Regions from separate parts of the Homo sapiens genome. Here regions 2 and 3 are each linked to region 1. The links come from fine-mapping of genetic effects on gene expression. A gene starts in region 1. Each other region holds a variant in brackets. All regions are shown on one strand. Distances are from middle to middle.

Evidence for each region. PIP is the estimated chance that this variant, and not a neighbour inherited with it, causes the effect.
Region 2: its variant is fine-mapped to the expression of IL20RA in esophagus mucosa (GTEx, PIP 0.98).
Region 3: its variant is fine-mapped to the expression of IL20RA in left ventricle (GTEx, PIP above 0.99). The same link has a PIP of 0.9 or more in atrial appendage.

The regions. Positions count from the first base shown.
Region 1 is chr6:137,041,876-137,053,194 of GRCh38, reverse strand. It overlaps IL20RA (interleukin 20 receptor subunit alpha), which reads left to right and starts at 8,230. Exons shown (of 7, transcript NM_014432.4): 1 at 8,230-8,554. The coding sequence starts at 8,467. RefSeq lists silencers at 8,418-8,477, 8,508-8,617, 8,688-8,737.
Region 2 is chr6:137,010,101-137,015,100 of GRCh38, reverse strand. It overlaps IL20RA (interleukin 20 receptor subunit alpha), which reads left to right. Exons shown (of 7, transcript NM_014432.4): 3 at 3,649-3,827. Among named protein-coding and RNA genes, the nearest start is that of NHEG1, 19 kb to the right of the region's middle. The variant G/A (reference allele first, on the strand shown) is at 1,891.
Region 3 is chr6:136,956,780-136,968,179 of GRCh38, reverse strand. No RefSeq gene overlaps it. Among named protein-coding and RNA genes, the nearest start is that of NHEG1, 31 kb to the left of the region's middle. RefSeq lists enhancers at 9,351-9,917, 11,054-11,400 and a silencer at 10,595-10,889. The variant G/A (reference allele first, on the strand shown) is at 4,740.

The DNA.
Region 1 (11,319 bases):
CAATATAGTGCTATAAATACATATATAACTGATACATATTTTTGACATTATCAGAACTGTGTGATATATACAGAATACATATAACAGTGGCACAAAGGAGCCACGAGAAACACTGGAAATAATGCAAGAAATATACTGAAGATGAAGATGGAAGGATATAATGCTTGAGTAGAGCCACAGAAGTCTTGGAGAACTCCCAGACTTTTCACTTGGGTAACAGAAAATATAGACACTGTACAGATGAGTTCAGCTTGGAACAAGTTGAAATTTAGGTACATAGGACTTACAAGTAGAGCTGGGGAATTAAGAGAGGGATTTCTAGAGCTCAACAAAGAGGCCTAGATTGGAGATTGAAAACTGAAATTGGCCTGGTGCAATGCCTCATACCTGTAATCCCAACACTTTGGGAGCCGAGGCAGGAGGACCACTTGAGGCCAGGAGTTCAAGACCAGCCTGGGCAACATAGCAAGACTCGTCTCTACAAACATAAAAATAAAATTTAAAAGTTAGCCAGGCGTGGTGGCACAGACCTGTAGTCCTGGCTACTCGGGAGGTTGAGGTGGGAGGACTGCATGAGCCCAGGAGTTCAACGCTGCTGTGAGGTATGATTGTGCCACTGCACTCCAGCCTGTGCCACAGACATTGTACCCACCCCCACCAAAAAAAAAAATTGAAATCACCCATGGAAATATTGTAGAGTGAGAAGAAAAGTGAATAAAAAGACAAAACTGAAGAACTCTAATGTGTAGGGGATTGTTACAGCAAGAGGAACCTAGGGAGAAAATCCAGATGCCACTGATTGTTTATTATAAAGGTAGTCTGTGGCTGCCTGGGGATAGGGCTGGGGGTGGGGGTGGATGTCAGTGAAGTTCACAGAGGCCATCACAGGTGTATTCCCCAGGAAGCAGACTCTGAGGTAGACTTTAGTATGTACGGTGTTACTGGGGAGGGCCCTTGTGATAAACACCTGCTGGAGGGAGGAAAAGGAAGCAAGAGTGGATGCAGGTGAGCTGTGAGGAAGGTTCAGCAACAGCCTTGGCCAAAGGAGCTCTGGACTTAGAATGGACAGAATTGCCCCAAGTTGGACCAAGATGACTAGGTCTTCATTGTCCCATATCTGATTAGTCATTGGAACTGAGCCTTGGAAAGGGACCTGACCTTGGGTGAGTCAGTTCCCAGCCACTCAGAGAGTCCTTGAAAAGGCTGACAGCTGGAGGCTTCTAATATTAGCACTCCCAGGAGCTTGGACAACAAATCCGTCTTTGAAGTGGGGTCTGGGTGGTGCATCATAGTGTCTAACACAGAGACCAAGGCCACACTGTTTGGATAGAGTGGAATTGAGAATTAATCCATATATGACACCAGAGCCGTGCAGTTTCCTCAACATTAGGCCATCAGTTGGCCCATAACCCATCCTCCATTTGTTCATTAAAGGATGGAGAGATGAAGAGTCTGTCACTGTTTGAACTCTCACTTGGGGGCCAGATAAATGCTTATTTGGAATTTGGGTAAACTGAAGGGGCCATTTCTGTAGTTATTTGACTCTTCCTCTATTCTTTAGGCATCAAGAAAAGAGTAAGTTTCTTTGCTTTCAGCCATATATATATACCTGTCTATATAAAAATGACCCATCTTTTAAGAAATTGTTTCTCCTTGGTTTCCTCCAGATTAAAGCACACAGAAACTTTCTCTCTTTCTCTCTCTCTCTCTCTCTGTCACACACACACACACACACACAAACACACACACACACAGAGTACCTTCATATTCTGCAATTTCCAAACAATGGAATACCATTCTCCAATAAAATAAACCAGGGTTCCATGGAAAAATAGCTGGTTTTAAGGCTAGCAGAGATAAATTCAAGACGAGGCTGGAGTCTCTTACATTACCAGAAAGTAAGGAAGTGCTCAGGACAAATCAAAACAGGATGGGGGTGTATCAAGGCAACACAGGTGTCAACCTGAAAGAGCTCACAATGGCAAAAGCTGGAACAATTTGAGCAAGAAAATAAAGAATGTAGCATTGGACTATAACCCAAAGTATAAAATAAATACATTTGAGTCCATATTAATTTAAATAAATGATTTAAATAAATCAATAAGTAAATAGGGAGAAGAGAAGGGACAGATCTTCCTTGCAGAAGATTTCCAAATAACATACAAAGTTATTTCCTCCCTTCAGAAGGGGGAGCTTAATTTTGGCCACCACCACTGTCCCTCCCCAAGGGTAGGTTAGACTTAATGACTGTCTTCTAAAATACAGAGTAGGAAAACGTAAAACAATACCTTTACAGTACAGAAACCTGGCAAACACTTCCTTAAGCAAGTGATGAAGGTTAACATCATTATCAATGTCATGTGATGTCATATACTCTTGATATGATATGATTAAAAAAAGCACTTCACCTCTGTGATACTTTTTTAAGAAACCATTAACTTCAGTCTAATCATGAGAAAAAACATCAAACAAACCCAGACTGGGGCACATTCTATAGGACATCTGGCCAATACGCCTCAAGACTGTCAAGGTCATTAAAAAAAAAGGAAAACCTGAGAAACTATCAGACCAAAGACTGAGAAGACATGCCGACTAGATGTAGCATGGTACTCTGGATTGGATCCTGGAACAAAAAGAGAAAAACTAGAGAAATCCAGGCCAGTTGTGGTGGTTCACCTGGGGAGGCTGCAACAGGTGGATCACTTGAGATCAAGAGTTCAAGACCAGCCTAGCCAACATGGTGAAATCCCCCATCTCTACTAAAATACAAAAATTAGCTGAGCATGGTGGTGGGTGCCTGTAATCCCAGCTACTTGGAAGGCTGAGGCAGGAGAATCACATGAACCCTGGAGACAGAGGCTACAGTGAGCAAGAGATGATGCCACTGCACTCCAGCCTAGGTGACAGAGTAAGACGCCATCTCAAAACAAAAAAAAAAAAGAAGAAGAAGAAAAACTAGAGAAATCTAAATAAAATCTAAAGTTTGCTTAACAGTAATGTGCCAATGGAAATGGAAGTTTCTTAGTTTTAAAAATTTACCACGGTGATGCAACTGTGTGAGGAGTGTACAGAAACTCTGCACTACTGCCTTTGAAACTTTTCGGTATACAAGTACAACATTAAAAAACTAAAAAGCTCCTTTTGTTAAAACATGGTATTGATGCAAAATGGACAAACAGACCAAAGAGTAGACATCTAAAAATGACCCAATACATATATCTTCAATAGATTTTCAACAATAATGGCTAAAGCAATTTAATGTGGAACGAAAGTCTTTTTAACAAATAGTACAAAAACAGTAAGACATCTATTTGGAAAAAAAATCTCTACTCTTTTCTCATACCATATACAAAAATTAGCTCAATGTATTGCAGACCTAATTATAAAAGCTAAAACTATAACATTTCTAGGAAAAGCCATCTTTCTTTCAACCTTGGGATACACAAAGACTTCTTAGACGAGACACCACAATCATAACGAAAAAAAGTGAAAAACTTGACTGTATCAATATTAAAAACTTTTGCTCTTGCAGACATCATTGTAAAAATGAAAAGGCAAGTGATGAAGTGGGCAAAAATATTCGCAACGCACATATCTGACAAAGAACTTGTACCCAGAATACATAAAGGACACCTACAACTCAATAATGAAACAACCCAAATGTCTATCAACCGGAGAATGGGCAATCAAATGGAGTATATTCAAATAATGAGACGTCAGGGAAACATGAATATTTTCACGTTTCTGGATGGTTTGTCTCCCTGAGCAAAGAAAATTGGCATGCCATAGACTGTCTCCTCTTCCACAGAATCATTTGCTCCTCACATTGCAAGGGTGTTAGATCTGGAGCCATCTGGTCTCATTCAGAGAGTAATAAAATTTATCTCCCCACCATAGCCAAATGTTTATATTCCAGGGTAGGTACTTTCCCCTTTGCCTTCCTGAGAGAATTAATTTACTTTCCAAGAAATCTGTTGACATTAGGGAGCTAGGGTTTTTCTTCCTCTCTCAGAAGAAGACAGTGGCAACTAAGTGGTGTGTAACCTATATAAACTCAATATTAGATTGTCTTTTTATTTTGTTTTTAATTTGTTTGAAGCAATTCATTACATATGCTGAATATTAGGCCTTTAGCAATTATATTCATGCTGTTTTACAGTTCAGACCTCAAAAACCAGTAAGATATCTATATGGAAAAAAATTAATCTTTACTCTTTCCTCATATACAAAAATTAGCTCAATGTATTGTAGACCTAATTATAAAAGGTAAATCATAACATTTTCTCAAGTGTAAGAGGCATATAAGGAAATTATTAAAAGCACAAACTTTGAAAATAGATGAACCAGCATTCAGTTTCCAGTTTCTGTTGCTTATTAAACGAATGACCTGTCCAAGTCTGTCTCCTTGTTTTGAAACTTGGGGTAATGTAACTAACTCTCAGAATTGTTGTAAGGATTGAAGGAGGTAGTTAGGAAATTTAAATTTCTTAGGTAGGATCTGACTCAAAGAAAGAATTCAGTAACTTCGTATTATTAGTATGTATTATCCTTGGAAACTATTTAGTAATTAAACTAGGATAGAAAAAAATTATTTTTTGCCTGTGGTATTAGTGTTTGGGGTGGGAGGTAAGGAGTAGTGGTTTATGGCCTTTTTCATCGGGAAGCCTGGAAATCCTATACATCAGGTTCCACAAAATTAAGATCTCAATGTGGTAAATCATGGCAAGAGGAGTTGCAAAGTTGAGAAGTAGAAGAAAACCTCAATTCGAAAACATCATTTCAAAAGTCTCTGAAGAACACACTGAAGATTATATTGCCTGGGAGGCTTAGATGGGGAGGAACCAAGACTGCTGCTTCCCAAAGTTAGCAGAGGGGGGTAAGAGGTTAGATTTGAAGATACTAAGGAAACTCACTAAGGTGAGTTCTGGGTCACAGATGCAAACAAAAGAAAAACTGACTCCACTCTTTATTTCAATGCATGGGAAACATCAACTGAATACATGGCAAGTTCTCAGGTCACACTCATCCTGTAGAACCCTAGCCATTCTGAGGACAGAGTGGTGAGTTTGTGAACACGTAAAAGACAAGCCTTAGAGGTAAAATTTTGACTGCCTTCTGACAAGTGCCAAGGGGAACTTGAAGAGGAAAGGAGAGAGGGGACGAGAGGCATGCAGAAAACTGTTTGTTCTCAGACAATTGACAGCCCACTCATGGGGGAAGAAACTCCAAGTCGCAGTTACTCCATCCCCTACCCCGTTCCCACTTTCCAGCTGGAGGAAAAACTTGGTGAAATAATGAAATGTCACTGTTCAAGTTCAGAAGACTTAGGAGATAAGGGAAGGCTTTGTATAGGTCTGCTTTAGCCTCTTGAAGGGTCTGAACGATTCATATTTGAATAGAAATGCATACAAAATTTAGATATCCAAAAATGATTGGCCCCAAACACTTTTGTAGCAAATATTTACCCTATTTAACCCACAAGACTTAAGATGATAATGATGAAAGTAAACTAATACAATTTATAATCAAAAAGTAAGAACAACAGCAACTCAAGATAATATTGATAATGTACTGATCACACAGAGTCCTTCCTAAAACGTTCTGGGATTACAATGGAATCAATAAGAGTCCAGTTGGGAAAACAGAAACCACACTAGTTATTTCAACAGAAAGAATTTGCTGTAAGGAATTGGTTAAACAGATGTTGGAGTACTAAAAAAGTAAAGCAGGAATACTGAGATTGAAAGAGACAGAGTGACTACTAGAAGCAACTACCACCGTCAGGGTTAAAGGAACACAGGGCAGACGTGGGGTTCAGATCCCAGAAGCGAAGCCTCCAGGAAACTGGGACTCAGACCTCTGAGAATGGGGCATAGCCTACTCAGTGCTGGTATTTCTCAGGAGATGCAGTGAAGCTGATTCTGGGAGTACAGGAAGAAGCTGGGAACTAGAAACAATTGCTCCTAGAACTAGCTGTCCCTGCCAGGGTAAAGAGGCACTGTGGGGCCTTAGTGACAAGAACAGCAAACAAATAGGAAGCAAGTCCCTTCTTTCCTCATCCAGCTTTCAGGATTCCTTCAGGGCCCCTTTTGGTGGAAAGGAAAAGAACCAGCTAACAAACAAGAAAAGTGGTTTGAAGAGGCCTCACGTCAGCACCACGAAGCTAACATCCCAGCCTAAGGGGCCCTCTGACCCAGATTCCTCCTCTGTTTCCAAGTCTTTCAGGAAGGAAAAAGTAGCATACTTAGGCGACTCAGAAAATCCTGCCCCATCTTCTATCTCCTTACTCCCTCCTCACCAAAAAAGATCTTTTTTAATACTGAAGACCCCCTTTAAAAAGAAAAAGAAAAAGAAAAAGAAAACAATAGTTGCTCTAATTTGAGTGTCGTTTCCCTTTATTGGAGCATTTGAAAACAGACATTTAAGGGCAAAAGAGATGGAACACATCTGAGGTAAATCGTGTATCTATCTTCAGGCTGTGCCCAACCTTTAGAACCACCTAGAAAGGTACAAAGCTGAGAGCCTCTCTCAGATTTTTCATATAGTATTTCAAGACTCACCTCTTAATTGCACCCTTCCCCCCTCCCATTATAAAGAGCATGGAACCTAGGACCCACCGCCTTGTGTGGAAGTCCACACACCACTGGTCACAGGCCACTCACAGGTTTGGGGGACTTCATGATGATTCCTAGACTTTCTGAGTTTCCCTTGCCTCATCTGAAAAAAGGGCCAGGACCTAACTGCAGGTTGTGAGAGTTGAATGAAATCAAATAACAACTTTTCAGTCAGTGACAGACTGCATATACAAAGGTGGTCTCATACGATTATAATAGAGCTGAAAAAATTCCTATTGTCTCTAAAGACCTTCCAGGAGGACAGGATGTGAGGTGGCATCAGTGGCACTGACAATCCTGACCCTGTGCAGGCCTAGGCTAATGTGTGTGGTTGTGCCTTAGTTTATAACAAAAAAGTTTAAAAAGTAAAGAAAAAATAAAGAAAAAGAAAAATTTAAAAATAGAAAAAGCTTATAGAAAGAATACAAAGAAAAAATATTTTCATACTGCTGCACAATGTGTTTGTGTTTTAAGTCAAACGTTATTACAAGTCAAAAAGTTTAGGTCGGGTGTCGTGGTTCACGCCTGTAATCCCAGCACTTTGGGAGGCCAAGGAGGGTAGATCACCGGAGGTCAGGAGCTCGAGACCGGCCTGGCCAACATGGCGAAACCCAGTCTGTACTAAAAATACAAACAAATTAGCCGGGCGTGGGGGCACACACATGTAATCCCAGCTACTCTGGAGGGTGAGACAGGACAATCATCAAAACCGGAAGGCAGAGGTTGCAGTGAGCCGAGATCGCACCACTGCACTCCAGCCTGGGCTACAGAGCAATGCTCCATCTCAAAAATAAATAAATAAATAAAGTTTAAAAGATTTAAAAGTAGAAAGTAAAAAATCATAGTAAGCTAAGGTTAATTTATTATTATTGAAGAAATAATTTTTTAATAAATTTAGCATAGCCTAAGTGTAATACAGTGTTTATACAGCCTATAGTAGTACACAGTGATGTCCTAGGCCTTCACATTGACTCACCACTCACAGACTCAGCCAGAGCGACTTCCAGTCCTGCAAGCTCCATTCATGGAAAGTGCCCTATACAGGTGTACCATTTTTAAAATCTTTCATACTGTACTTTTGCTGTACCTTTTCTACGTTCAGACATGTTTAGATACACAAATATTTACCATTGTGTTACAATTGCTTGCAGTATTCAGTATGGTCACTTGCCGTACAGGTTTGTAGCCTAGGAGCAAACAACAGCCTGTACCATATAGCGTAGGCGTGTAAGAGGCTATACCATATAGGTGTGAGTACACTCTAAGATGTTCACACAAGAAACTCGCCTAAGACATTTCTCAGGAGGTAATCCTGTCATCTTAAATGATGCATGACTGTAAGATCTACGGCTGAGTGCCTAACTGTATATCGAGAAATAACGCTCTATTTCATCCGTCTTCCGATATTGAACTTTAACTGACCATCAGACCGGCCTGAATACCAGAATCTCTTTGCAATGCACTCGCCTCGCTCATTACCAGAAGGAGGTTTTACCTGCCTAGTGACCTGGTTGGTCTGGGCATGAACCCCGAGAGGTGGAAACTCTCAGACTCTCAGGACTGACAGCCGAGTGGCTGGGGACTATAAATCCGCGAGAACTGCCCTCGCGCTGCCATCCAGCTGGGTAGCCGGGGGAGCGCGCGTGGGGGCTCCGCGAGTCGCTCGCCCTTGGTTTCTGGGGAAGCCTGGGGGACGCGGCTGTGGCGGAGGCGCCCTGGGACTCAGGTCGCCTGGAGCGTGGCACGCAGAGCCCCAGGCGCGGAGCTGAGGCCGCGCGGCCGCGCTTGGCCCCAGCGGGCGTGGGACTGAGCAGTCTGCTGCCCCCCGACATGTGACCCAGCCCCGCCGCCCATGCGGGCTCCCGGCCGCCCGGCCCTGCGGCCGCTGCCGCTGCCGCCGCTGCTGCTGTTGCTCCTGGCGGCGCCTTGGGGACGGGCAGGTAGGTGGGTCGCGCCGCCAGGTGCGGGTCGGGGATGCCTCCAGGCCGGGGCCCCGCCAGGCAGAGCTCGAGGCCGAGCTCTCCCCTCCTGCCCGCCGGCCAGGTTTCGCTTTCGGGCGGGCAGAGGACGAGGTGCGCGGAGGCCGGAGCTTCCAGCCCCGGGGCTGCAGGGAGCCCGGGGGACACTCGCCGTCGCCTCGCGCACCTTGGCTCGGGGTCAAGTTTGCAGGACTCCGCGCTCCGCACTTTCGGTCTCGAGAATTGAGGTGGGGTGGGGGGAGTTCGGTGGGGGGTGCGCTCTGCGCGGTGCCCACAGCCTATGACTTGCGGTCGGGGACGGTTACCATGCGGGGCCCCTCGCCGGCCAGTCCCAGGTTCCCGCCACCACCGCCGCGGCCGCGCGGAGGGGCCCCTGTGGATGCCGCGTCTCGGCCGCCGGGCCCCGCAGTCCTGCAAGCCGCGCGTCGCGAGATCCGCGCTTTAAAAGCCAAACTCCCCGAAAGGGTCAGCCCCGAAGGAACATGATCCAGAAAGACGCAGCTTCTTAAAGTAAGCTCCCCCTGTCCTGGGTACGCCGTTGTTTCCTTTGCAGTTATGACCATGTACAGATAGTGCTCTTTGATTTTTCAGAAATAACAAAACTTTTAACTCGTTTACGACATAAGGTAACTGAAGAGCTCTTTCGTTTTGTTTGGTTTTTAAGTTTAAATTCTCTACCAATTGGAATCCAGTAAACCAGAATGATTCATTAACCTGATTGCTTTTTTTCCCTGTATTTCTCGTACATGAGAAAAAGATTTTTTAAAAAAACAAAAAAGATATCCGGGATCCCTTTTTAAAAAAATTATTTTAAAAAACAACAACAAAGCTTCTCCAAATACTGTGCTTTGTAGACACTTCGTTCAGGCCCCGCTGTCTTTTAACCCAGAACTGAACAGTAAGAGTGAATGCAGGAAGAAAGTTGACGGTGAATCTGGAGTCCTTGGTAGTTAAAGAAAAAGTTAAATTCAATATAGTTACAACAATAAGAAAAGTATGCACACAGATCTTGGAGAGATTTTGAACGATAGCTATTATACATAAAATATTTTATCTTTTAAATTTATCAGAAATTATAGTTATTTTTCCTTTTAATATTCCCGGGTAGACTGAATGGGAAGAAACGACTGACGTGCAAATATTGAGCCTTCAACTAACAGACAGAAATTTGTTTTTATTTTTAATCGAAGAGAGAAGCTGGGCGCTGTGGCTCACACCTGTAATCCTAACACTTTGAGAGACAGAGACATAGGCAGGAGGATGGCTTGAGGTCAGGAGTTTCAGACCAGCCTGGGCAACATACGGAGACCCCTGTCTATACTAAACATTAAAAAAATAAAAATAAAAAACTAGCCAGACGTGGTGGCAAAAACCTGTAGTCCTAGCTACTCCGTGTGCCCAGGAGTTCCAGACTGCAGTGAGTTATGATCACGCCACTGCACTCCAGTCTGGCCAAGGGTGAGACCCTGTCTTTGGGGAAAAAACCAAAAACAAAGAAAGTGAGAGAGAGAAATAAAATTGTTGGGTGCTGACATTACCAGGTAGTAATGTTCTTGACTTCAAAATAAAATTTACAAAACAAAACAGTAAGAAATCTTTTCTGACCCAAGAGACCTTGATACTACTTTCTTAGCTCTTCTTAGGGTATTCCCGTCCTCTCCTGGGTCTTTGGGCTAAGGTCTAAGGACTGCTGGGAAGACCACCTTAGAAGATGTATGTAGTTACCTGGATACTACCTGCTCGTAATTGAAGGATTATCTACAATGTCTTCTGTACAACGTGGGCTTACTAAGGTTCTATGACTTTGCCACTCTCAGGTAGATTAATGCTTTAATGCTCTCATTTTTTAAACTTCTAAAAATTTTCGTCTCACAGCTCAGTGCCATATCAGGCTGTAAAATACCAAAACATCCAAAGAGGAAAAAAAAAACTCAGCATGTCATGAACCTTGTAGGGAAATCTTGGTATTTCATTTCAGATAAAGTTGTAATGGAATTCAAAATGTCTATGCGGCTCCCTCAAGGCAGGTGCAACACGCTGTCATTCACTCTTGGACCCCTCCAGGGACAGAATTTCACAGTGAAGTTTATCCTTATGGCTTATCAAACTCCGCCCTATTGGCCATTCCCATATCCTGTTCTCAGGAACGATAAAGAACCATGATTAGCATAATATAAACAGGCATTTAAAGTCACTAAGATAGAATGGGAGATGGTGACTTCTCAGGTCATCTGCCTCCTCTGCTCAAAGCCCTTCAGAGGCTTCTACTGTTCCTGGAATCATTCTCAGTTCTACAAGATCCTGTGTGGCCAACTCCTGCCTGTCTCTCCAGCCTTATCTCACACCACCTAATTCCTGCTATCCTGGCCTTTTTCTACTTCCCAGACAAGCCAAAGTGTTTCCCATCTCACTCATACTGGCAGTTCCTCTGGAAGTTCCTACTGGAGATTCATACTGGCAGCCCCTCTGCTAGAATGCTGCTGTGCCACTCTATTCCCAGCTAACTCCTGCTCAGACTTTGGCCTCTCCTGCCAATGTGCTTCCCTCAAGAAGGTCTTCCCTAGGGAGTTCAACAATGAAAACACATGGACACAGGGAGGGGAACATCACACACCAGAGCCTGTCGGGGGGTGGGGGCTAGGGGAGGGATAGCGTTAGGAGAAATACCTAATGTAGATGACAGATTGATGAGTGCAACAAACCACCATGGCACATGTATACCTATG
Region 2 (5,000 bases), 35 kb after region 1:
GCCATTTTAGCAAAAGCAGAACTCAAGTTGAGAGAAAGGGAGAATTTCAATCTGGCAACACTCAACAGAATATATCTTGTGAGGAAAAGACAAGTATAACCTAAGACTCTTACGAAGTTCAGTAGACTGGTGTTTGGAAGCAGGTGGGAACTCAGGAGATCACTTTTCTGAGATCTTCCTGGAGGATGAGGTGGAGCACTAACTAAAGACGACCTCCAGCTAACAGAGAGATAAAGACAAACCCAAAAGAAGAACTTAGTGATGACCAAAAGACTGGTAGCATGCATGGAATTCATCTCAGTGTAGAACTAAGACTAAATAGTGATGGAAATGTAATTATAGAAGTTTCTTAGAAATAATTTGAATTTAAACAATAATATAAGGTGGAAAAGGGGGGGGGAACTATAAGTGTACTGATTTTCATAGCCAGAAGCCATTAAATGTCATCTAAAATGACAATATTTTATTATTTTAATAATTAACCTCTCAATATTTTTCACAAACCATTTTCTTAATTTAAAAGCTCTTTTAGGAACAAATATGTCTTGTGGTGACAAACATTTGCACTTCTGTAGTTTCTTTAATCTCACTTCAATTTCTTTTTTCTATCAAAGTTCAAGGCACATTGAATTGACTACTTTTATTAAAACCATATGTATGGTATAATCTAATTTTTGTCCATCTATTCTGCTATCATATCGTCCTTCTGTTTATACAGAAGCACAATGAGATATCCAGAATCATACACACCAAATGTTCCAGGGTAATGGGTTTTAGGATGATTTGTTTCTCTTTTGATTATACTTTCTGAATTGTTTGATTGTTTGAATTAAAAAAATTTACCATATTTTCAAAAAAGAATAAAGTCAGTTTTGTCTTTGAAAAAAAAATTCAGATAACTAAAACCAGTGAAAGACTTCAGCAGCGACTCACAGTGACCTCATTTATCTAGAACCTCATTCTCATTTCCAAGGAGTTTCTCAGGAGCCAGTGTTAGAGGAAAGAAATCACTTTGCAGAGAAAAGGCTCGTGAGCATGTCCTTGCCTCCTTATCCATTAGGTGGAGCAAAGAGCTTGCTCTGTCCTTTATGTTTTATGTGATCCAGAAAGGGATTTTTAAAAAATAGACAAGAGTCATCACTGCTTCGTGTGAGCAGATCACTCAGATTGTGCAACTTTTAAAAATATGTTTTTAAAAAGAAGCTTGCGATGTTGGAGTTCTTACATGCCTGTGCATGTGAAAGAGGGACAGGAATATAAGACAATGTATTTCACTGCCAGAGGGCTCCAAGCTCAGCTCTGGAGTCAGACAGTCCCCAGTTCATAGCCAGGCTATGAACCTAGCTGGGAAGGTTACAGATTATACTTTTATACTTTTGAGTGAAGTTTGTTTCCAAGGTGAAAATTTTCCAAAAGTTTAAATTCTATCCACCAAAACAATTAATGCAAAAAAATAGAATGTAGCACTAAAAACAGAAGTTTTGGCGTCAGGGAAGAGTGGTTCAAATCCCAGGAATGCTGTTTACTAGTCATGTGAATTTGAGTGGATCCCTTAATCTCCCTGAGCCTCAGCTGTCTCATCTGTAAAATGGGATGAAAATAAGAGTACCTACCCCCTAGGGTTGTTATGATAATTAGTGAGATAAAGCTTGTAAATCAGAGACCACTGAGGGCCCCATATGGCTGTTTGCCATGCGTGAGTGTCATTACTGGAATATTTGCTGAGTGATTCTGGTCATCATTCATTTATTTTGTTGAAAATCTTGTAAAGAGCCTTTTCTCCTGCATCAGCATCTGTCATGGGAAGCTGCCTTGCCTTTGGCAGAGTGAGGAAGTTTGAGGAGGGAGGGGCCACATAGGCAATGGCAATAGTCTTCAAGCCACAATTCA[G/A]GACTCTTTGATGACTCATGAAATGAATGTTGAGGGATATTATTTTTAATGGAAAGGAATGGAATGGTGTGGAATGGACTGGAATGAAAAATAACTGAATGCAAGGCATGTGGTAAAGTTTAAATATTTTCTTGTACAATTTTTGTTTTAATATGTTAGATAGTTTTATATTTTGTGAGCTGAATCACAATATAAAATGTATTTTTCTTTTCCCTGTGGATCATGGTCAAAAAAAAAAATTGAAAGCCCTTAAGTAACAGTGATCACTTGGATGGAGAAGTTGATCAGTAAGATCTGACTATATTTCTGATGTCTTTTGGTAGGTATGGTACTTAGGAAATGGGAAACATTTACTTTCAGAAATCTGTTGCCATATTCTGAAAAGAGAAAATATCCTTAAGCTTTGGCAATACATGGACATATCCTCTTTCTCAAGACACACTCTTCCCTTGACCTTTATGATATTTTTTTCTCATCCCTCTTTAGTTGCTATTTCCAGGTCTTCTTTCTATCCAACCTTTAAATCTTGACGCTCCTGAAATTTTATCCTAGACTTTATTTTGTTTCCATGGATCATTCATTCATGCTTGTGCCATCAATGAGCAGTTTGATGACATTGACTCCAAAATCCCTACCTCCCACACACATGTCTCTCCTGAGACCCATTGCCCACTGGGCATCTGCAGTGGGATATCTCTAACATACTCAGGCTCAAGGCATCAAAAGTGAACATCTTATCTTCCCCTCCTGCTCTGCCTCCCCATCCATTTCCCAAATCTGTTCTGTCTCAGTGCTCTTTTTCGTAGTAAATATCACCACCATTCCACCCATCTGCCCCAGACAGAAAGAGACAGCATCCTTAACACCTTCATTTCCCTAATCTGTTACATGTTTTCTATCACCAAGTCCTATCTCCTAATATTTCTTGCTTTTGTCCTGTCCTTATTTATCCTACTGCCCCTGTCCTTGTCCAAGCGACCTACATCTTCCCCTGGACCACTGTAGTGTCCTCTCAGCTGTTCCCTAGGCTGCCACTTGTAACCCATCACCTTTCCCAAACTGCCTCCCCTGTCCCTTTCACTGGCTTATCACATGTTACCTGAACTCTACACTTCAGTCTCTCCCACCTGAAAAGGGCTGAAAATATTGCCACCTCCCTATTTGCTATGGGGGTTGTGTTTTTAATAAAGAAAAGGAAAATCAGTATGACCAATCTAGTCAATATTATCATCATCACTATAATTATCAAAAATGCAGATTTCTGTATGCACTCCAGCCTCGTGTATTTTCCCTAGAATCATTGATACTTAGATTTTTATATGCTATGAGAACGTCAAAGTAATTTTTCTTCCAAGAAAAAAATGACAAACTGTTCTTCAAACAATCCGTCAAACTGACCTCGTGTACATAGTAGACTAAAAACCTACACAGATAATTACTAGAAGAATTGATCACACAATATGTAAAAATTTCACTGTAGCCAAAGAATAACAGTAAAATATATGCTTCCAAAATATACTGTCCACATTATAATTCACAGAAAGAAAGGTGATTACAGAAACTCTGACTCATGTTCCTGACAGCTGATGAAAAAAATTGCCCACCGCAAAAGTGGATTCTTTTTTATCTCAATGACAGGCACTTTTGTTTTTCTGAAGAGAAGGTCGTCAGTTCCATTCAGTTTTATAAAATGACTGAGTTTTTTTATTGTAAAGTATAGAGGGCACCTCATTATTAATTCAGCTTCTTTCTTAGCAGATATGGGCAAAAGAAATGGCTGAATAAATCAGAATGCAGAAATATCAATAGAACCTACTGTGATCTTTCTGCTGAAACTTCTGACTACGAACACCAGTATTATGCCAAAGTTAAGGCCATTTGGGGAACAAAGTGTTCCAAATGGGCTGAAAGTGGACGGTTCTATCCTTTTTTAGAAAGTAAGTAATGCCATTATTGCAATGGTCAGTTAAACATGTATTCATATCAGGTTTAACAGTCTCAGCCTCACAGACAGCCTTGCCCAGAGGAAGGTACTCTGCTTGGCTGTATTCTGGACCAGTGGGTTGAGTGAGCAGGACAAAGTCCTTAACCTTGCTGGCTCTGAGTCTCACCTTGATTGACTGATTGATTGATTGACTGTAGAGACAGGGCCTCATTATGTTGCCAGGCTGGTCTCAAACTCCTGGGCTCATGCTATCTTCCCACCTCAGCTTCTCAAAGTGTTAGGGTTACAGGCATAAGCCACCGCACCCAGCCTGAGTCTCATCTTTAGAGTGAAAGGTTTAACCAAGTGGTCTCTAAGATCTCTCCCAGATCCAAAATTGATACTAGATGACAATGATATCAAATTTTGACTTTGTCTTACTACTTTGTGGAAGCTATGTAATTTGAGGAACAAAATGACTTTATTTAATGTGGGTTTATGGACTATTAATGTCTCCACAAGATTGATTAAACATTGTCCTGATTATCCACTATGCTTCTTCTTGTATGAACTTGGTAGTGTGATGATGTAATTTCCAAGTGTAACCCAGAATTAAGGCAACTTCTTCCTGGTATTTACTTTTAAAATGTTGCCATCCCCTGAGCTATGGCTGACTCAGTCATGAAGGACCCACTCAGGGCTGCCATAATGAGCTCTGCAAGTGCTCCATAAGTCCAGGAGCCCTTCCGGATCAGAGGTCAGAAAACTACCCTTGGGACAAATCCAACAACACCCTTTCTGTTTTTCTACAAGCCAAGAGTTAAGAATGGTATTTATATTTTTAAATAGTTTCTAAAAATCCAAGGAATATTTTGTGACATTGGAAAAGTAAAGGAAATTGAAATGTTGATGTCTATTCATAAATAAAGTTTTATTGGGGCACAAGCCACACTCATTTGTTTACACAGTTACCTTAGATTGCTTTCGCAATACAGCAAGAGTGGAGTAGTGCAACAAAGATCATATGGCCTGCGATGCCTGAAATATTTACTGTCCAGACCTTTAGGATAAAAGTCGCCTGGTCTCTGTTCTAGATCATTCTAATCACATCTCTGATTTTCCACTTATCAAGTCATGTTGTTGTCATTTATCACCAACTTTTCAAGTCACAGAAATCTTACAAACA
Region 3 (11,400 bases), 85 kb after region 1:
CACCAGATTGGTTCTCCTGTCTGCATTCTTCTCATCTCTCAGACCACTCACCTTCCTCCCAGCCCTCTTTAACATCGGGAACTAAATGTGCTTTGGACTAGACCTTGCGGCATGACAGTCATCCCTATGGTAGCAAGTGTGGCAGCATCTGACTGCCAATCTCCGACTCCCACCAGAGTGGGGAGTGATTTCTGAACCACAGAACCCATCTTTCTATCTCTCTCTCTCTCTCTCTTTCAGTTCTTAACCTTCTGTTACGTTCCTGGGACAGATCACATGTGTGAACCTTCTTGTCTCTTTGCCCCTACATGAAGGGGGTGTAAGCAGTGGCTAACTGAAGGGGGTGTAAGCAGTGGCTAACACCCTTTCTTGGTCATTTTGCACATCCCTTCAAGCTAGTTAGCTTAACCCCCTGGTCCCGTGCCCCAACTAACACCAATGTAGAGAAAATGTCTTTGTCCATAATCTAAGTGGAAGATGGAAATCTGACTTCCATCTCTGCAGGAAGATGAACTGCCCCCTGCCCCCTTTTTAATAGTATTATGGCCACAGATTGCTGTCCTGTGTGATCTCCACCAAGAACTCTACCTGGAGATCTCCAGGCTGGATGGTGGCTCCAAGGAGGCACAGTCATGGCATAGTGGCTCTAGGGGTGCACACCACAGCTTCCTATGGTAGGTCCCTCCAGATTCGGACCCTATGTGCCTGTGCCTGTGTCTATGCCGGTCAGCAGCATCATCTTCTTCCCTCACAGATGTGTCCCTTTTCCTTCTGCATGCCCCACTGCAGGGAAGTAGAAGGTTGGAGGACCAATGTACAGGAGCAGGGGTGACTATGTGTATCTGATCTAGTGTAATCCCTGGGTGTGGTTCTAGGAAGTTTGTCAACCTTAAACTAATTTACTTCCCTATCACTAATTCACGAGTTCTATTGACTGAACAAAAAGTGCAAAAAAAGAAGGTAGTGAATTCATCAATCATAGAAAAGGGCTATATTAAGCTTACTGTACAGCTCAAACTGATATTTACCTAAGCACCTTCCCCAGACAGCTATAAAAATAACTGTTGCCATCACAAAGAGAAAGAAAACGACCTAACTGTTCTGGTTAAAAGGTGATGAGGGGCCAGGTGTGGTGGCTCGCGACTGTAATTCCAGCACTTTGAGAAGCGGAGATAGGCAGATCACCTGAGGTCAGGAGTTCAAGACCAGCCTAGCCAACAAGGTGAAACCCCCATCTCTACTAAAAATACAAAAATTAATTGGGCGTGTGGCACATGCCTGTTGTCCCAGCTACTTGGGAGACGGAGGCAGAAGAATTGCTTGAACCTGGGAGGCAGAGCTTGCAGTGAGCTGAGATTGCGCCACTGCACTCCAGCCTGGGCAACAGAGTGAGACTCTGTCTCAAAAAAAAAAAAAAAGAAAAGGAAAGAAAAGAAGAAACAAGGTGATGAGGAGAAATCATCTAGAGAAGGGAAAGAGATGGAAACATAAACAAAATGAAACATACTAAATATTCACTACATGATCTGGAGCAGAGGATAGAATCACCTGCACATCACAAACCTGTACTTTCTGAGGAGAAGGATTTACAAACTAACCCATTCCCAAGTGAGGCTGCTTAGCCACATGCAAGATGTAGCGTCATGGGAATTCATCCGGGCAGTCGCCTCCCAGGTCTTGTGAGCGCCACCATCCTGTTCTGGTCCCTCGTGTGCAGTGAGGCACAGATAGATATATGAAATTTCTAGAATAAGATCTGGAAAGAGCCACATCAAATGGTGACAGTGGTTACCTTGGGGAATGGAGGTGGGGAAAATAAGAATAGAGAGAGATAATTAATGGGAACATTAACCTATTACATCTTTTTTTGTTTGCAAACAGAATGTATTCATTTATCACTTGTGTGATTTTTTTAAACACATTAAAGATATTACAAAATCCAGTAGAAGGAGTATGGACGTAAGTTGTACTACTTGGCCTACCTGGGCCCCAGCTCTGTCTATATCTTACTGGTGGGTCTAGCTTTGGGCAAGACACTAAAATTCTTGAGCCTCCATTTCCTCATCTGTAAAATGAAGGCATTAATATGTAACTCACAGGGTTGCTGTATTGATTGAGATTATAATAGCAACTGAAATACAGTTGGTCCTTAATAAATGCTTAAGAAAAGAGAGATCGTGGTTGGACACGGTGGCTCATGCCTGTAATCCCAGCACTTTGCGATGCCGAGGGAGGTGGATCTCCTGAGGTTGGGAGTTCGAGACCAGCCTGACAAACATGGTGAAACCCTGTCTCTACTAACAATACAAAATTAGCTGGGCATGATGGCACATGCCTGTAATCCCAGCTAACCGGGAGGCTGAGGCACGAGAATCACTTGAACCCAGGAGGCAGAGGTTGCAGTGAGCCAAAATCGCGCCATTGCACTCCAGCCTAGGCAACAAGAGCAAAACCTGTCTCCAAAAAAAAAAAAAGAAAGAAAGAAAGAAAGAAAAAGAAAAAGAAAGAAAGGAAAAAAAAGAAAAGAGAGTCCATTACCCAGATCAGAGGTGATGAAGGCTTATAAAGATGGTGGCAAAGAAGATGAAAAAGAAGAGAAAGATGGGAGAGACATTTCAGAGACATGACAGAAATGAAGGCGATTTGCCAACAAAGCCAAGGCTTAGGACCCTGCACCCCCATGCTATCCCAAGCTGACCTTTGTGCCTCTTTTCTCTTTCCAGGCTGCTAGGATGTTGCTGTTGTGTGAGAATATGAAGGGGGATGAGAAAAAAACAATGGAATGGAATGAATTCAAGACCAAATAAAGTCCGTGGTGAGACTTTTAAATATTCATATTCGTCAATGGCAATTTTGTAAAAGAATTTGCAATGCCCCTACTTTCTGTAAATGAGTGGGTACCCCCATCCTAGGGATATCCTCATCCTAATACCTCTCTTTAGGACAGCCTGTCTCTCCCTCTAAGCCATTCTTGGTGGAGATGATACCATCTTCCAGAAGACAAAAATTGTTCTTGGGAAACAAAAATATCTTACTATGTTAATGTGTAAGGCACAGATACACACAGAGTACACACGCAGATAAGCAGTATGTTTGTGGTATTGAATTTTGTGGGGAGGATATCAGAAAAAAAATCTAAAAAGGTTCTTTAGAGAGGTGACAAAAAAAGTCAGGAAACTCTAGTCTATACCCTAATCACCTTTGGAGCAGGGATTCTGAATTCACGTTCACTGTGGAATTCTCCTTTGGGAATGTCTCCATTGTGGAATGTCTCCATTGTGGAATGTCTCCACTGGGAACATTCAATGGGCTGAAATGATAAACAATGTGAGCTGGCTTCCTTGGAAGTCACTTAGGTAGTGAGGTGTTGTGGCCAATCTCGTGAAGTAACCTTATAAGTTACTTCCTCATGAAGTAACCTTAAAAGAGAGCACCTTCTGGAAGCTCCCCTAGGCCTCCCCTCCAGTATCGTCTCATTTGCCTGACTTGAATGAAGTGCCTTTTCCAGAACCAATCACAAGCAAGGGACTGAAATACCCCTGAGACCTGCAGGACCTGGACCTGGAAGTGTTGGCTTCCCCTGAGGCACAGACACCGCCCAGGGGCAGGGGAGTGGCAGGGACCCAAATAAAATGAGGGTTCTATAAGGAAGGAAAAAGGAATGAATAGACTTTGGTCTAGGTGGGGCAGAAAATGGTGTCCATGTAATTACTGACTCAAATGTTCCCAAACAGTTTTGTTAAGAGAAACAGGCTTCTACCTTGTTACCTCCATATTTTATTAGCTTTTGACAGAGCAAACAATTTTTAAAGTTGTGATTTTGGTCACATTTATTTTGGCTAGCTATTAATTTAGACACTCGAACCATAGTTGTATCTTTTCACATCATATGCATTTCACAGTATGTTGTGGTCTCTTATTTAAGCAATGTGAGAGGTGAGAGAGAGAGCACGCGTGTATGTGTCTTAGGATTTTTCTGGGGACAGGAATAGCATGTTAAATAGGGAACATGGATCTGAGAACCTGGGGACCAAGGCTATTATTGCCTTCACTTTACTGAGTTAAGTGGGTGACAGCAGGCAAGTTAAGTGGGTGGCACCCAGTCCTCTGAGCTTTGATTTTCTCACTTCTTATTAAATAAAGAAAAGATTATCAAAGTCTCTGCCATCTCCCAGATTCTATGTCTTGGAATTTGCTTTTTTTTTAAGCTATATTATAGATTATAGAAGTTTGTAGGGTTTTATTTATATTGTTGCTTTGGCTAACTATTTGGAAGCTTATTAGTAATTATTTCTGATATTTTGAACAGAAGCAAGCTCTCAATTATAATATTGTTTTGATGGAAAAATATAATCTATTTAACTATAAAACCTTGTCACATCACAGTATCCAAGAAGAAATATTTGCACCATCAGATGAAGCCTGCTATATTCAGTTTTAAATGAACACATTCAATCTTTTGGCAGGATGGATGGATGGATGGATGGATGGCTGGATGGATGGATGGATGGACACACAGATATCTGAATGAATACATGTTCTTGCTGTTTGATCTTAGGTATAATTCACAGGTGACACTGAGGAAATTAAGTGGCAGGTGTATGTCATTCAGCAATTAGGAACGGTTGGACATTGTCCCTATTCTAATAATAGGCCTATGGATGGTCTGCAGCTTGAGTCCACATCAGCAGCACACTCTATTTGTCAGCTTCCCAAAGGACATTCTGGCATTTTCATTA[G/A]ACTCTGCTTTCTTTCTATTAACACATCTGAACAGAATGTGCCCTTGCAAAGGGAGGCCAGTGACAGCATTTAAGTCTGTAATGTCAAAGAAAATCTCCAGTGGTAGATACACTTCCCTGGTCTCTTTTCCCTTAAGGATTATGAGATTTATATACCTAACGAGTCAGAGTGTGTTTTCTTTCTATGCAGTATCCCATATCCAAATAAATAATGAAATAAATACATAAGCACAAACACCACATGCACCTTTTGCCATTTACTGAGTCAGTAAGATTTTGACATTAGTAAGAGCAGCAATGAATTATGAATGTTTCTAAGAGAAATTTTTAATCCAGGAGGACTTTTTAAAAGGCACTTTTCGATTCTGGCCTAATAGATTAGTATAATCAAATAGCTGTTGTTTAAATTATTTAGTTATTCCCAACTAATATATAAAGCCCAACTGACAAAAACCAATTCTAAAATCCAGGCTGAAAAACTCCACTGTCTACGCTTCCTCATACTCCCCATTCAGTGGAAGATCTACACTGTCAACACCACATTGTGATTGTTGCTTTAGCTGCCACTTCCTGCAGCTGCCATCTGGCTGATTAGAAGTGGGGAAGGCCTATGGTGACAAGCCCTCGGGGCATTTTTCCAACCCTTTAGGAAACAGAAGGAAACGCTTGGGACTCTAATTACAGACTAATAAATAGTTCAAGCAGCCTTAAAAAGAAGAGGTTGTGGGTCCGAAAGGAGTTGATCCCTTCATCTACCATATTCCACACTCTCTCTTAGTGCCCCTTTTTCATTTTAGAAGATTCCCTATTCTTTTCTTTTTTGTCTTTCCTTTCTTTGTTTTTTTTAAGATGGAGTCTCACTCTGTCCCCCAGGCTGGAGTAGAGTGGCACAATTTCAGCTCACTGCAACCTCCACCTCCCAGGTTCAAGCAATTCTCCTGCCTCAGCCTCCTGAGAAGCTGGGATTACAGGCGTGTGCTACCATGCCCGGGTAATTTTTGTATTTTTAGTAGAGATGGGGTTTCACCATGATGGCCAGGAGGGTCTCAAACCCCTGACCTCAGGTGATCTGCCTGCCTCAGCCTCCCAAAGTGCTGGGGTTATAGGCGTGAGCCACTGCACCCGGCCCTTTCTTTCTTTCTTTCTTTTAGTTACAAATCTGAATGGCCAACCCATGGCCCCACTGTTAGAACCTAAGCATTTCTGCTCTGCATCACGCCTATGACCCTACCCAATGATTCATTTATGAGTGTCTATTATGCACCAGGTGTGGAACTAAATGATGGGAATTCAAAGACAAAGTAAAATCTTGCCTTGAAAGTACTTAAAACATAATCGATCCAATACCCTTCACTATCTTTATTTATCTGCATCTCTCTCTCTCTCTCTCTCTCTCTGCCACTGTTTATTTTGGCTCCATGTAGCCCAGAAGTTAAGAATACAGGCTCTGCGCTCAAATGGGACTCGAATCTCAGTTCCACCTTCCATCCCCACACGTCCAGAGTTCTTGTCCTGTTCATATGTTCAGTAACTTACTCATGGTCACACAGCTTTTAAGAGGTGGAACCAGAAAGGGACAGAGCCATGATCCAAAGCCAAGCAGTCTGACTTCTGATTCCATGCACCAAACTACAGTGCTTGTTAAAAACTGGGGAAAATATTTCAATATCTGTATCAGACGAACGGTTAATATTAAAACCTTTTCTGCTTTTCCAAAATACACACATGCTATTTTTCACTTAAAAATGTATAATGTAAAGTTCCTTCCAGGTTCTTACTATACTTTTTTTTTTTTTTAAGATAGTCCCACCCAGGCTGCAGTGCAGCAGCGCAATCTTGGCTCACTGCCACCTTCACCTCCCAGATTCAAGCAATTCTCATGCCTCAGCCTCCCAAGTAGCTGGGATTACAGACATGCACCACCACACCTGGCTAATTTTTGTATTTTTAGTAGAGACAGGTTTTGCCATGTTGGCCAGGCTGGTCTCGAACTCCTGGCCCCAAGTGATCCTCCTGCCTCGGCCTCCCAAAGTGCTGGGATTACAGGTGTGAGCCACTGCACCCAGCCTTAATATACATTTATATAATTATTTTAATAATTTAAAAATCCTATATACATGTAATCCATATAGTCCAGCTATACATATATGTATAGCATACATATACGTATATCTACAAATATATATGTATTATATCATAGTATTTATTATTTATATGTTTATAAATATATATTTATATATTTAACCAATCTCCATTGTTGAGCATTTAGGCTGTTAACAATTTTCACTAGTATAAATCACAGTGGCCATACTCCTGATAAACACAGGTATATCTATGTCTATTTATTTCTTCAGGATAAATACCTACAAGTAAAATGCCAGATCAAAGAATATTCACTTTCTAATACTTTTAAGAGCTGAAGCCCAAGCGCCCTTCGGGAAGCCTCAAGCCAACAGGATGTAAGAGCATCTGCTTCCACCACACCCTTGCCAATGCTGATAAAATTTTGTCAGACTGAGAAGTAGAAGCTTTTCAAATATCTGTTTCTATTGATTAATAGTTGAACATTTCTTTGTTAGGTAATAATCATTTGTAATTCTTTTGCAAATTGCCTTTCCTGTTTTTTTTTCTAATAGAGTTTTGAAATTTTTCTTATCGATTATAATTTTTTCCTTATTATTTATATTAACCTTTTGTCTGATACAGATGTTGAAATATTTTCCCCCAATTTTTAATAAGCTTGGTAATGGAGAATTTTTTTGCCCTATAAAAGTTATATGTGGCTGGGCACAGTGGCTCACACTTGTAATCCTAGCACTTTGGGAGGCTGGGGTGGGCAGATCGCTTGAGCCCAGGAGTTCAAGACCAGCCTCAGCAACATGGTGAAACCCAGTCTACAAAAAATACAAAAATCAGCTGGGCATGGTGGCATGCGTCTGTGGTCCCAGCTACTCCTTCTAGGGAGGCTGAGGTGGGAGTATCACTTAAGCCTGGGAGATGGAGGTTGCAGTGAATCCTGATCCCGCCACTGCACTCCTGCCTGGGTGACAGAGCGAGACCCTGTGTAGCAGGACGAGCCGCAGACAAAACTCCTCTGACACTGGGTTAAAGAAGGAAGGAGCTTTATTTGGCTGGGAACTTCAGCAGACTTGCATCTCAAAAGCCAAGCTCTCCTCACTAAGCAATTCCTGTCCATTTTAAGGGCTTACAACTCTAAGGGGGTCCGTGTGAGAGTGTCCTGATGGATTGAGCAAGCAGGGGGTACTGCATGCACCAGTAATCAGAACAGAACAGAACAGGACAGGGATTTTCACAGTGCTTTTCCATACAATGTCTGGAATCTATAGATAACATAACCGGTTAGGTCAGGGGTCGATCTTTAACTACCAGGCCCAGGGCGCGGCACTGGGCTGTCTGCCTGTGGATTTCATTTCTGCCTTTTAGTTTTTACTTCTTTCTTTGGAGGCGGAAATTGGGCATAAGACAATATGAGGGGTGGTCTCCTCCCTTACCTGTACCCGCCCCCAAAAAAGAAAAAAATGATATGTGTGTGTACACGAGGCAGGATATTTGCCTGACCCCTTTGTGGGACTCGAGACAGGGGTGCATCGTTTACTCAGCCCACAGCTCTCCACTCCTCACAGGAGGGAGTGCACGAGCAAACAAGGCGGGGACTGGAGTGCACGAGGCCTGGAACTGGCCAGCCGCTTCGGCACCAGCAAGAGCAAGCTCTGTGCGGGCCCCATGGCAACATCCAGGTGGGGGTGCCTGTGACACCTGGAGCCCCAGAGGGCGTGTTACAGTGCTCTCTTAGCTCTGCTGTCCTCTGATGGCTTAAGTGTTAACAGCTCAGTGAGCCCTTTGCCTCGTCGTGTGAGACGACTGCCCTCCACCAGCGAGGGCAAAGGGCCAGTGTGACAGCCTTTTATGTCCACACTTGTGGCTCCCAAGCTCTTGTCTGGCATCCAGGAAAAATGAGGTCGCATGAACGAATTGAAGGATGGTAAATGCAGGGGATTTTATTGCCAAGGAAAGTGGCTCTCAGAGGAAATGGGAGCTGAAAAGGGGATGGGGGGTAGGTAATCTTCCCCTGAAGTCCAGCCGTCTCCTCTCAGTGGAAAGGGGAGCTGAAAAGGGGATGGGGGATAGGTAATCTTCCCCTGAAGTCCAGCTGTCTTTGGCCAGATTCTTCTCCAAATTCTTCTCTGAAGCTCAAGCTGTCCCTCTGAAGTCAAGCTGCTTCTCTCCAACTTCCAGCCCTAGACCCCAACGCCCAGCTGCTTCTCCTCTCTGTTGGCTGAGTCTGGAGTCTTCTATGCACAGGATAGGGGCAGAGTGGGCCATAGGTAGTTTAGGGAAAGGCAGCATTCACATGGGAAAACAGGGATAGAAGTTCTCACTTTGGACCACGGGTTTCAGGCTTTTTGGCTTGAGGGTGAGATTTCGTCAGGGACCACACTTTTCTGCCTAGAATTTCTCTGCCCCCGTCCCTATCATGCATATAAATGGCATTCTCGATGCCAAGATTATACCTATGTTCACTTATATTAGGATTGTCGTGCAACCACCAGAAGCATGACTGACATCAATAGAGGGAAATAAGGCATTGTAACCTAACCAGATAGAAATATGACTAAATTGAAGTATTTCCACTTTTTAAATAATAACTTTATTTAATTTTTAATAACTGAAAAGATGGGAAAGAAGCAAAATATCAGACTCATCAAGAAATGATTCCACAGATCCTTATCTGGCAGCTCAGAATAATTGAGTGACTTGGCCAAGGTCATGGTATTAATGGATGAAAGGGATTTGAACCATGACCACCTGGCATCAGAGTCTAAACTCTACATCATTTAACTTCTCTGAAAAACTAAGTCCCTTATTCTATCCCCACACCCTGTAGTTCATCCTTACTCTATTCATGGCTTTTAAGAGCTGAAGCCCAAGCGCTAGAGCCCAGAGCTAAAAGAGCACTGTAACAAGCCCTCTGGGGCTCCAGGTGTCACAGGCACCCCCACCTGGATGCTGCTTAATCGCCTAGATGCTTACTCTGGCCGGAGAAACTTTGACTTCACCTGTGGATGTCAAGCTCCTGCAGGTTCTTAGGAGCGTTCTGGTTGTTGGCAAGATTGCCTTCCTTTGGGCTTTTTGAGTTGCCGGCTTTGGTGGTGAACCAGTGCATTGGCTCCTGACTGCTACTTACTTTTCAGGGCTTAGTGAAAAATGACAATGTGGGGTCCCTTTTGCAAAAACCAAGAGAAAGGATTTTTCTTTCTCCCCCTCACGGTTTCTCTCTTGCCCCTTCCTGGTGCTTGTAATTTGCTATGTAATGCCACACGCCCACCGGCACAATACTGCAAGGTGAGTGCAGATCCTCAGAAGCAAGGGGTTGGCGTGGGGGGCAGGGGGTGAGCATGCGCATGAGACCACCAGGGCCTGCACTGGGGCAGGGGGTGGTTGCAGTGGGGGAACCTGGAACTGGGTGGGTGGATGGTGGGGGAACCCGGGACTGGGTGGTCGGGGGGAGCCTGGGACTGGGTGGGGGGTGGGAGGGGAGCCTGGGGCTGCATGGGTAGGTGGTAGGGGAGTCTGAGAGTGGGTGGGTAGGTGGTGGGGGAGTCTGGGACTGGGTGGGTGGGTGGGAAGGGAGCCTGGGGCTGGGTGGGCGGTGGTGGGGGAGCCTGGGACTGGGTGGGTGGATGGTGGGGGAGAGCCTGGGACTGGGTGGGTGGGTGGGGGGGTGGAAGGGGAGCCTGCAGCCAGGGCCAGGAAAGGCAGGGGGGTGGAAGGGGAGCCTGCAGCCAGGGCCAGGAAAGGCAGGGAGGTGGCGGGAGGCTCCAAGGTCCCAGCTTCTGCTCCATCATCCCATTAGGACTTCACTTAAAAGACACCATGTATTCAAAGATAAATCAGAATTCCAAGACGGTGGCTGCAGACATTGGGAGTGCGGGGCCCCCTTCTGGGCTCAGAGGCTGTGTGCCAGCACTAGTCGCAGGCCTATGCAGCCGGCCCTGCCCCAGCTCCTCTTTCTCCATTGCAGTGCCTCCTCCTTGAGCTCCAGTCGGCCTGCATTGGGCCGTAATTAACTTTTTTCTTCCTCCCCTCCTAACCACCCCAGCCCACAGCCCACAGCCCACTACCCACAACCACTGAGCTGGCTGAGATAAGCACAAACAGCCACAAGGAAAGCCAAGAGGCCCTTCTGTGTGAGGCCGACTAGAGTCCCAGAGTGCATTCCACTTAATTACCGGGAGAAATTCTCTAGAACTGCTTTGGATACTATTCCTAGAACCAATTAGCCCGAACCTTTCATTTACATGCAACTCGAAGATGCAAAAACAAATAACTATGGTACTGTATTTTAACAGCTTAAACAGCTCTGTTTGTTTAGCTAAAACAGATGAATAGCTTTCCAAAAATACACAGAAGAGCACTTCCGGCCTGATGAATGCATAACAATGACAGCTGCGAAGTCACAAAGGAAGTACCATTTAGGTGGCATTTGCTAACAAGTTGTATTTTAGGAGAGAAAGGAAAAAGTTAACATAATTAAAGTCAAAGCCAAAGTAGAAACCTTTTCCCATCTACTCGATTTTATAAATTAACAACTTGATTAGCAGTTTGAAATATGATCTGGTTGCCATCAGCCAGGAGCAGG